2 separate regions of the Homo sapiens genome follow, and region 1 is linked to region 2. The links come from fine-mapping of genetic effects on gene expression. A gene starts in region 2. The other region holds a variant in brackets. All regions are shown on one strand. Distances are from middle to middle.

Region 1 (5,304 bases), 47 kb after region 2:
TACAATTTGCCCACAAGCCTAGCAAGCCATCCTCTGGAAGTATTAGGATATTCGTGCACAGGACACTAGAATTATCACATTTCTTGTTTTGGAGACTACACTTTTATTAATGCAGCCTAAAATTAAGTTTATAAGCAGCAACATTAAACTATTAGCTGTTTGAATACATAGCTAAAATGTACTCCCTCCTCCCCTAACATAAACATGTAGCCAACTCTTCTCCCCTCAGCCTGTACTTTTCCAGTTGATTTTTGTTTAGCCTAATTGTAGGTTTCACATTTCTGCTTTTTTCTTTTACTCATATGAAAACCTCTGGCCCTTTCATCGTGGGGCATGAACCGGCCAAGACACCTGATAATAGAAAAAAAAAATCATAGACAAACATGTAGCAACCATCAGACCATGGTGAATGTAAAGAATAGACCCTCATGAGGCTGGGCGCCGTGGCTCACACCTGTAATCCCAGCACTTTGGGAGGCCGAGGTGGGTGAATCACCTGAGGTCAGGAGTTCGAGACCAGCCTGGCCAACATGGTGAAACCCCACCTCTACTAAAAATACAAAAAATAGCCAGGCATCGTGGCATGCACCTGTAATCCCAGCTACTTGGACGGCTGAGGCAGGAGAATTGTTTGAACCTGGGAGGCAGAGGTTGCAGTGAACCAAGACTGCACCATTGCACTCCAGCCTGGGCAACAGAACAAGACTCCGTCTCAAAAAAAAAAAAAAAAAAACCCACAAAAAACAAAAAACCAAAACAACAACAACAAAAGAATAGACCCTCATGAAACTCCAGGCCTATGGAGAATATTTTGATCCAGCTACAAGCTTCTGGTTCTATTGTCAATGTCCAAGCTTAATAAGAAAATAGATTAAAGATAGGACATGTTGCAGTCATTGCCTGATTAATTCTATTTTTCTTGAATTGCTTGCTTATTGATTAGAACTGTTTTTCCATTCCCCTCTGAAATCTCTAAGTGATGAAAAGTTCGAGTTCCTTTAGTGGCACAGGACAGGGGCTCAATCAAACCCTAGAATGATTCTCAGTCAAATGTGAAGCAAACAGAAAAATTCTTACACACTTAGGAAAGACATGGCATAAAAGTCAACCTCAGAAAGACAGGCAGCATTACCATATGGTACCTCCAGCAGACAGCCAGGCAGCATTACCATATGGTACCTCCAGCAGAAAGACAGGTAGCATCGCCATATGGTACCTCCAGCTGAAGGCGGAGGACATGAACTCATAAAGGAGGCCATCTGCTCAGTTCTGGGCTTTTCTTCCCCAAAGAGGAAGGCTTGCCATGTCCACTCTTTGTTAAGCCAAGGCATCAGATTGGTTCTCTATAGTTCCCACATCCTTGTGCATCTTCCTACCTGTGCCCTATTAATGGACAGGGGCTGTCTGATGCATTTGCTGAAGCCAAAACTTCTTGGGTTTGGGTTCTGGCTCCACAATTTACTGGGACCTGTGGCCTTCAGGAAGCTTAACCTGTCTATAAAATGAAGTTAGTAACAGTATATATCTGACCTGTGAGGAAAAATCTTAATACATATAAATCACTCAGAGCAGAGCCAAGCACATACAATGGACTCAGTAACTGTTAAGATACTATTTCTTCAGTGTTCCTTGGCTCCAACTCATTTCTAACACAGGTAAAGGTCCTCTATTGCTTGTTTGGCTTCCCCAGTAAAGATAAATCCAGGCTGAGTGAGTTGTTAGCATGTAGATGGGTGAAGACTTCTTAAGAAAGCAGTGTTAAGGTTGTAGGCCACATGGTAAAACACAATTTTTATGGTCCCGAATTTCTACCGATTGGGAAGACAAAGCAATTTCCTCCTGCATATACTTTATTCACACATGCTAAATCTCACTAAACAGATCACACTGTCAAGGAAGATGGCTAAGGAGAAGCTAGGGTTGTCAAGGTAATCCTTGCTTCGGCCCTGTTTTGCAACAAGGTAATAAACAGCCAGAACAGACTGGAGTGAAGCAGGTTAAGGGTGAGGAGAGAACACAGTGCAGTGCAGGGTGTGGAAGGCAGCTCACAGTCAGGGAGGCAGCAGTTCTAGCCAATCAACACTTTATTTTTCAAGTCAACACCTGCACAGATGTTAGTGTCCACTTCCTGACCCTAGTAGGGGGTCCCACTACACTTGGATCACCCAGAGGAGCAGTAAGGAAGCTCCTAATCTCAAGAGAGAGCACATGCTCACCAACTCCAGTGCTGGCGCCATGTACTGCGGGATCCCTGCTCTCCTGCATCATGAAAGGCCGGGCTGAATGGGGCAAGGATGCAGTGAAGGTTACACAGACTACAGTGACCTAAGAGTGTAACTACTGGCCTGACCCACTGCCCCAGGTTTACTCTTTACTTCCCAGACCAGGAGCCTCCCTAAAGCTTGGCCAGTGCCCACGGGATAGGAGGAGCTGGCAAAGGATGGGGTTGAGCTGCTAAGGACAGGACACAGCAGGGAAATAAAGCAGAAAGGAACACAAGACAAGAGAAAAATTATAAAGTGCCTCAACTAAACAACCAAGTGGGACATGAGGGCAGAGCAGCACAGGTCCCTGAGGATAGGAGGAAAAAGAAAGGGCCAGACCACCAGGGCTTGGGGCATAGTGGAATGAGAATAGAGATGAGGCAGGGAGGCAAGCGCAGGCTGTGGGAAGGACTTCCCTAGCCCTGTTCACATCCACTAACCCAAATGGAAAATTATTTACAAATTTAAAACCAATCCTAGGCACAGGTACTGCACCATGCCCAGGACAGCAGGCAGGCAGGCAGGCAGAGGGTGGAATAGCTACCATCCGACAGCCAGCTTCCCCACACACTGCCCCACCCCAGAGTGGTAGGCAAAGGAGGAAACAGCAACACTCCTAGCCAGGAAGCCCTACTGTGCCTGCAGCTCCTTCCTCAACGGCTGGCTCATGGCTCTGCCACGGCCTGAGCTTCTTGGTCTGACTGTACCAGAGAATGGATGTCGGGCCCCAGGGGTGGAGCATCAGGGGGTTTTGGCGGTGTCTCTGGCTCCAAGCCCAGCTCTGCATTCAGCTGCTCCAGCTCCCCCTGATCCAGCAACTCAAAGTCCTCAGTGGTGAGTGCC[T/A]CTTCTTCCTCAGGGGCAGGCAGGGGCTGGGGTGAGTCCTGGGGAACAGGTGGGAGAATGGAAGGGGAGGGGGCTGGGTCACTTCCAACAAGGCAAAGTGGAGGTGACAGGGTGCCGGGCAGAGCAGTGAGGCCACCACTCACTGTCTCGGGGCTCAGTGTCTCCACTGGTCCTCCAGGGGAGCATTTCACTCCATCTGGGGGGGACCCTGCCCCATTGAAGTGCGTGTTCACAAAGTGGAGGGGGGATGAGAGCCGCAACAAGGTTTCCTTAGCTGCCACATCCTCTTCCTCTTCCTCCGAGTCCAGGGCTTGCCTTGACAGAGCTTGAGGACGGCCTAGTAGGTCTTCGGGAGGGGCCAGCTCTCCCTCCTCTCCCTCCCCTAGGTCCCGGCTTAGGGTCTCCTCTGGTTCACTTGGCAGGCTCTGCTGGTCCAAATCTGTGCAGAGAACAAAGAATTAAGAATGGGCCTGCTGCTGGTCTGATTAGCCACAACAGACAATGAGTTCAAGGATGAGAACTCAAGACATGGAAAGCTGGGCCAAGCCTTAGGTGTTAAGGTCTTTTAGGAGCTGAGAGAATTAGAGAGTGAGTGGGCCAGAGAGCACAGTAAGTACCCATGGTAGGGAACACAAAGATTGTGGCGGGGAGCAGGGCAGCAAAGGGCTCCCCATACCCTCGGAGACATCAGTCAGCTGCGGAGTTGTGGCCCGGGATACGGAGAAGCCACCACTCTCCAAGATAGAAGCCTCCTCATCTGACAGCTCTGAGTCTGTAATGGCCAAGGCCAATGCTGTTTTCTTCACATCCACCTGGCAGGAGAACCAGGATGAACACGACATGTGAGGGGATAAGAGAACCAATTTATCAGGAGCATCCCCTCTCCCAAAACCTCTGGCTTCCACCTCCTTTGGAGGTGGCAGCTCCAAAGCAGAAAGATTTTTCCTCTGGCTTTCTATTTGACACCCCCGCTTTCCCTGGACCTCACCACTGGGGAGAAGCCAGCCAGCTCTGCCTCGCTTTCACTCTCTGTCTCTGCCAGTGGCTCATCACCTCCTGGGGGTGCATTCTTCCCCTGACGCTCTAGAAAAGCAAGAGTAGTAGAGCAATGACCAAGCATGAATGATGGGAGGGGAGACAAACACAGCTAAAGAACTGGAGAAGATCTCAATTCCAGGGCATCTCATGAACCCCAAGCCAAGGCCCTCCCGCTCTTTCACCCTCCTGGCTTAGGGCAGCCCCTTACTCCTCTTGTCGTGTTTGTGATGCAGGGCATTGGCTTCTGCCTTCATGCTGTAGTCCAGCTGCATGAGCAGGGGCTCCAGGCGAGTGTACATCCTCTGGATCAGCTCATGATAAACCACCAGGGGCCACAGCAGGATACTCAACACTATGGGTTAAGAACGTGAACTAAGAGCTCCCTACGCCAATTTCCTAAGAGCCCCCATTCAACTGGTCCCTAAACTGAAGTGCTGAAGGTAGGCAAGGTCCTTTCCCAAGGCTGTGCCAACCTCTTCTTGCCACATCCACTGCCCTCCTCCCCAGGTAAGTCTTCCACAGTTACTAATACTAAAGCATCCCTGGAGATCTCCACAAATCAGAAACTGAGCAGAGAGAGCATAGTCTTCCCTCTGGGTCAGTCCAAGGAAAGAAGAAAGGAGAGGGCTTTAAATAGGGCAGGGACAGACCCTACTCACAGACAATGTAGGAAATCATAATCCCTGGAACATAGTGTCCCAACACAGCCAACACAGCACAGCCAGAGCAGACTCGAACGCAGAACTGCAGAGAAGAGCAAAAGTCTAAGAACATCACGCTGAGATATGCGCCCCGCTCGGCTGGGTAAGAAACTACTGCTCAGCTGGTAGAAGGATGGGTATGTACTCAAGGAATGGGGTGGTCCAGTTTGGTTAAGAGGATGCTCAAGACCACCAATTCAGGAAGCTGGCAATACATAATGCCCACCACCTGTAATTCACACTGGTCTGCCTTGGCAGGAGAAAGTGTCAGGCTATCAAAAGCTTATTTCCTGAGGTGAGACTGCCTCCTGCACCAGGGATTAGCTGTGAATGTTGCCTCAAGAAGGCGCCCAGGCCTCTTCTTTCAGGGTCTCCAAGCGGGGAGTTTATATCACTCCACTCCCATCCCCCGCCACCTCTATTCCCCTTCAGTGTAGTGAACTGTTGTATGATGTAGG
Region 2 (5,366 bases):
TGCACTAGGCTAAGGGAAATCTAGGCTGGGTGTACAAAAGGCTGGGGTTAGCCATGCAACCTGTACTGTCACTTGCCTGATGAGGGCCTAGGACACAGCGGTAGGCATAAAGAAACTGGCCCTGGGCATTCTGGAAAAGAACTCGATGAGGGTAAAAGCCTGGGGGTCGGCTCAACTTCTCAAATGTAGCCCTCTCCCGATCCAGTGTCTGCAAGTCCTCCTCACTGGCTGAGTCTGAGTCTTCTGATCCCGAGATGCTGGAAAGATCTCCTGAAGACAGACAATATGAGATACACAAGTTTGGTACCCCATTTTTGTTCTTTCCTCAAACTCTAAACTAGTGCTTTCTTATACCTCCATGTCCTACTCCTACATAGGTCCCCCTACCACTCATCACCTGTGGAGCTCTGCTTTTCAAAGTCCAGGGCAGACAGGAGAGGCTTGTCCTTGAGACGTTGCTTTAGGTTAAACCGATGCCAGTCAAGCTTATAATGTTCCCTCTAGTACAAAGACAAAGAGTGAGATAAAGGTGGAAATATGCCCCAGCCTGGCCTTGTACTGGCCAAGACCAGTTATAGTATTCTAGGAAGTACAACCAGGTAACACCAACTGCCTCAGTCAAAGCATGGACCTTTATTAAGACAAATCAAATGTCTACCTCTCCCCACCCACCATTACACTTTTGCTTCTAACATCTAGCTCTGCACCTGACCTATTACCTGTTCTTGGTGGTTCTGGAAGGTCTGGTCACAAGTTGAACAAAATAACTTCTCTGAAATATCCATAGGACCCTGGAGTAGCTTTCTTTCTGGGCTTTCTCTCTCCCCTGAGCCTAAATAAGGGAAGAGGAATTGGACATAGAAAGGGAGCCCAAATCCACAGTGACAAGAATTATATTCAGAGTGTGATATACAAAGCAGAGGAGGATACAAAAGAGATGGCATGATACTGCCTTCAAGGAATTTACACTCTAATAGTCATGAAATAAACAGTACAGCAATCACTTAATGCAATAAACATGCTTCTGAAAACATGTACGTAAAATGAATGTAAATAAAATAAAATTGGCCAGGTGCAGCGGCTCACGCTTGTAATCCCAGCACTTTGGGAGGCCAAGGCAGACGGATCATGAAGTCAGGAGATCAAGACCATCCTGGCTAACACGGTGAAACCCCGTCTCTACTAAAAATACAAAAAATTAACCGGGTGTGGTGGCGGATGCCTGTAGTCCCAGCTACTTGGGAGGCTGAGGCAGGAGAACGGCATGAACCGGGGAGGCGGAGCTTGCAGTGAGCCGAGATCACACCACTGCACTCCAGCCTGGGCAACAGAACGAGACTCTGTCTCAAAAAAGATGAAGAAAAATAAAATAAATAAAACGAATGTAAATAAAAACTGGCCCTGGGCATTCTGGAAAAGAATCCGATGAGGGTAAAAGCCTTGGGGTCGGTTAAACTTCTCCAACGTAGCCCTCTCCCGAGATCCAGCGTCTGCAAGTCCTCCCCACTGGCTGAGTTTGAGTCTTGTCTAATTTAAATTAGCCAAACAGATTGTTTAGGTGAATCCTAAAGAAAATAATTTCTGTTCAGTTTAAAATTATTTTTCACTGCACAAAAACTACTTCCCAAATGCTTTTTAAAGTTTACATTTCCAATTAGTGTACAGTTTGTCTAAGGAGAGGTGCAAGAAAAGATGTAGCCAAACTAAAGTTACACAAAACAGGACCGACACGGTGGCTCATGCCTGTAATCTCAGCACTTTGGGAGGCTGACCCAGGCGGATCACTTGAGGCCAGGAGTTTGAGACCAGCCTGGCCAACATGGTGAAACCCCGTCTCTACTAAAAATACAATAATTAGCCGGGCATGGTGGTGCGGGCCTGTAGTCCCAGCTACTCGGGAGGCTGAGGCAGGAGAATCACTTGAACCCGGGAGACGGAGATTGCAGTGGGTGGAGATCGTGCCACTGCACTTTAGCCTGGGCGACAGAGCGAGACTCTCAAAAAATAAAGCTATACGAAACAAATAATAAATTGTTTCATATTCAGCAAAAAGGAATAATTTGAGTGGGGCCTGGTTAAATGTGGAATACATCTGAGAATTTTATCTCTACAAAGTTTAAAGTGTTTTTGAAGGGAATGGTGTTAACGTGAGGAGATACATGCAATGGCAAAAAGACTTGTTTGAAAACAAGGGCTGTGCTGGACATTACCCAGAGATTAAGTGAATTTAATCAAGCAGAAAGATAAATCAATTGGCCTCCTAAGCTCGGGAATACCAATAAGAATGTGTTCCCTGAACGGGCAATACGCTGTAAGGAGCCCTGTCACGTTTCACACGAAACCTTCCAGGATACCTGAACAGGAAGTACGCGGAGCCCGGGCCAGAGCCTCCCCAGGCGCGTGGCTCACCAGGCTCAGGCCCTGAAAGACCGGAGCATCCGCGCTGAGGTCAAACAGGGAGATCGACGCAGGAGCCGGGGCTGCATCTGGAGCCGGCGACATGGCTGAGCAGAAATTATTTAGCAGCAGCTCCTGGAGTAGAAAGCGTGTAAGAAACAGGGCTCCTGCAAACGAGATCCTACTGCTGCGTCTCCTGCCTGCCTGACTTGGTTTCTCCTGCACCGCAAGACTTCTCGTCTCTCATCCTGCTACCAACTGTGAGATGAATACCTTGGCCCCCGTCCACTTTCTCAAACCCCCAGTCTCAGCCCACAAAAGAATGAAATAGGCATTCGGCTCCCAAATCGAGTCCAACAGAGTTAAAAATCACTGAGCTTGCCTAGCCGAACTTTCTTCGTTACCCATGCGACCAGCAACAACTGGCCCGCGTAAACTCGCCCACGCCCTTAGAAGACGCACCAAACGTCCCGGGAGCTGAGCGGCTCGCAAGTCCTCAGGTCGATTGCCGGATTTCTGCAACACAACAATCCCCGTCACTACGGAGCAGCGAAGAGGACAACCGGCGGCGTCCGCACCTGAGCCCCGCCCCACGTAGAGCACACTATTGGGCCGCTGACTGTCCAAGACCCGCCTCGAGACTTTAGTCCCGTCCCTGAAGCCGAGAATTGGCCGTTGTGTCTCCGCCCCCCGTGCTTATTGGCCAGCCTGGCTGCGGGTGACAGTGAGTGGCAGACACCCGGCCTAGCGCCGCGGGTCGCGCCGAGCCGAGCCGAGCCGAGCGGAGCCGGCGGAGCCTCTGGAATCACCCGGGTCGCTGTTCCTGAGGTAAGACGTGAGACCGGTTATTGGAATCCCAGGCCCCGTGTCTGGCCTTGCCCAGGGGTGCCTGCGGAGCCCTAAGTGAGCTCGCGGCGGGTAACGGAGGAAGGGGCGCCGCCGGCGGGGCGGGGGCGCGCAGCCGGAATGTTTTGATTGCTGGCGCGCGCAGACGGGGGCGCGCGCGGGCGCCGGGGCCGCGCGCGAGGTTGTCCGCTGTTGGGAGCTGCCAGCCCTTGGCCTGGGGCCGGGCGACCCTGGGGCGAGGTGGACTCCGGTCCACGGTCGCCGCGGCTGGGTGTGGGGAGGCAAGCCAACCCACCCGGGCTATCAGCTGTAAGGCTGACTCGATCCCTGCAACATCCGCAGGAACCCCTGAGCCCAGGCCCAGCCGGCCGGGGCTCCACGGGCCCTGGTCCACACTGACCCTGTGAGTGGTGACTTCCCTGAGGGGCAGGGCTCTCACTAGCCCAGGGAATCCCACCGGGGCCAGGCTGGGCCAAGATCCACGGCCCCCAGGGGCTGCACGGACAGGTGAGTACCACCTCGACCATGCCTGGCTTACAGGACCTAGGGAACCCACAAATTCACCTAGGATCGGGGGTCTACACTGACCCAGTCAAGGTTTCCCATCCAGAAGGTTTGCTCACCGGCTGGATCTTTGGTGCTAGGGAAGTAAGAGAAGGGGTTGACCAGAAAGGTCCTCTTCAGGAAAGACTCTTGAGGTTTTGTGGACCCTGAGAAGTATGTCATTTCTGAGGCTAAGGTAGGGCAATGGAGAAATAGTCCAGAGGCGCCCCTGGCCTCAGGTCTGTACCCACTCATTCTCCATGGGGTCCCTAAGTTACTTCTTGAGACCCTGGAGTTGGAAGAGTGGCCCGGTTTAGCACAGCCAGAGGAAGTGCTCGTAGTCCTGGGCTGGAAGGGTGCTTCTTCCCCACTGCAGCCTTCCTGCCCCATGCTTGGCCTCCTCTTGGTGGGGTGTGGATGGCTGGGAGGGTTGGGTTCCTTTTTATCCCCACTGCCCACTCTCTGGGGCCTGACATCTTCTCCTCCAGCAGCTGCAGAGCATCGAGGGCTGGAGAGGAGCACATACTGTCCATGGAGCTGGTAGGGCCATGTGCTTTTCTCAAACATTTGTTTGTGAAGTGCTTCCAAACTGTTAGTCTCTTGGGAGACCAGGGTTCCCAGGATGGGCGGGGGAGGGACTCTTCTGTCCGTTAAATAGAAGATGAAACAGCCCCCAACAAAGGGACAGATTCTGGCTTTGGGCCAGGAAAGCAGCAGTAGACACCCAGACTGGCCAGAGTTAAGGCTCCCCCAGCCCTGAGCTTACTGCCTTTCTTGTGTCACTACTCCTCTGCCTCTGAGCCAAGGAGGCTGGTAGTGGACAAAGCCCAAGGGTACTTTCTCCTTTTGGCAGTAGGCAGGGCAGCCCATGGGCAGCAGCTGGAACTGAATCAGGGTCTCTTCTTCCTCCTTATTGGCAGGTGGTCAAGGTGGACAGGGGGCGGTGGTGATGGCGCAGTTTGACACTGAATACCAGCGCCTAGAGGCCTCCTATAGTGATTCACCCCCAGGGGAGGAGGACCTGTTGGTGCACGTCGCCGAGGGGAGCAAGTGTGAGTTCTTGGATATGACAGCCATAGGGAGAGTTGATGGAAGAACATGGAGAGAGCAAGGGGCTTGTGTTCTCCCAGGGCTCTGACATCTCTGTTCCTATCCCACAGCACCTTGGCACCATATTGAAAACCTTGACCTCTTCTTCTCTCGAATATCCTTTGTGTTTCTGAGTTGGAGCTCTGGGACCTTTAATGTCTCTCTAAGCCGGGGCTCTGGTGGGAGGTGGGGGTAGGTTTGACTCTAATACCTGGAAACGGGAATGGAGCTCATCCTGAGGCTGAAAGAGGCTGGTGAAATCATCGTTAAGTAATGATAGCCCACATTTACCAAGATCTGTGTGCCTGTGTCCACTTTGTGGTGTTAATTTGTAGAAGCCTTTCTAAGGGTGAGCCTCCTTTTTTTTTTGTTTGAGATGGAGTCTGTCTCTGTTGCTGCTAGAGTCCAGGGGCGATCTCAACACACTGCAACCTCCACCTCCTGGGTTCAAGAGATTCTCCTGCCTCAGTCTCCCACGTAGCTGGGATTAC

Evidence for each region. PIP is the estimated chance that this variant, and not a neighbour inherited with it, causes the effect.
Region 1: its variant is the best candidate, but not a certain one, in a credible set for the expression of ATG9A in whole blood (TOPMed, PIP 0.78).

The regions. Positions count from the first base shown.
Region 1 is chr2:219,180,255-219,185,558 of GRCh38, reverse strand. It overlaps RETREG2 (reticulophagy regulator family member 2), which reads right to left. Exons shown (of 9, transcript NM_024293.6): 5 at 4,805-4,889; 6 at 4,354-4,497; 7 at 4,096-4,190; 8 at 3,784-3,919; 9 at 84-3,546. The coding sequence ends at 2,930. Among named protein-coding and RNA genes, the nearest start is that of RETREG2, 4.6 kb to the right of the region's middle. The variant T/A (reference allele first, on the strand shown) is at 3,108.
Region 2 is chr2:219,227,394-219,232,759 of GRCh38, reverse strand. It overlaps ATG9A (autophagy related 9A), which reads left to right and starts at 3,124. Exons shown (of 16, transcript NM_001077198.3): 1 at 3,124-3,225; 2 at 4,275-4,326; 3 at 4,707-4,838; 4 at 4,947-4,990. The coding sequence starts at 4,736. ANKZF1 (ankyrin repeat and zinc finger peptidyl tRNA hydrolase 1) reads right to left here and starts at 2,954. Exons shown (of 14, transcript NM_018089.3): 1 at 2,860-2,954; 2 at 2,355-2,532; 3 at 720-832; 4 at 398-500; 5 at 77-270. The coding sequence starts at 2,502. RefSeq lists enhancers at 2,760-2,869, 2,540-3,087, 3,088-3,635, 3,636-4,184 and silencers at 3,020-3,149, 3,360-3,409.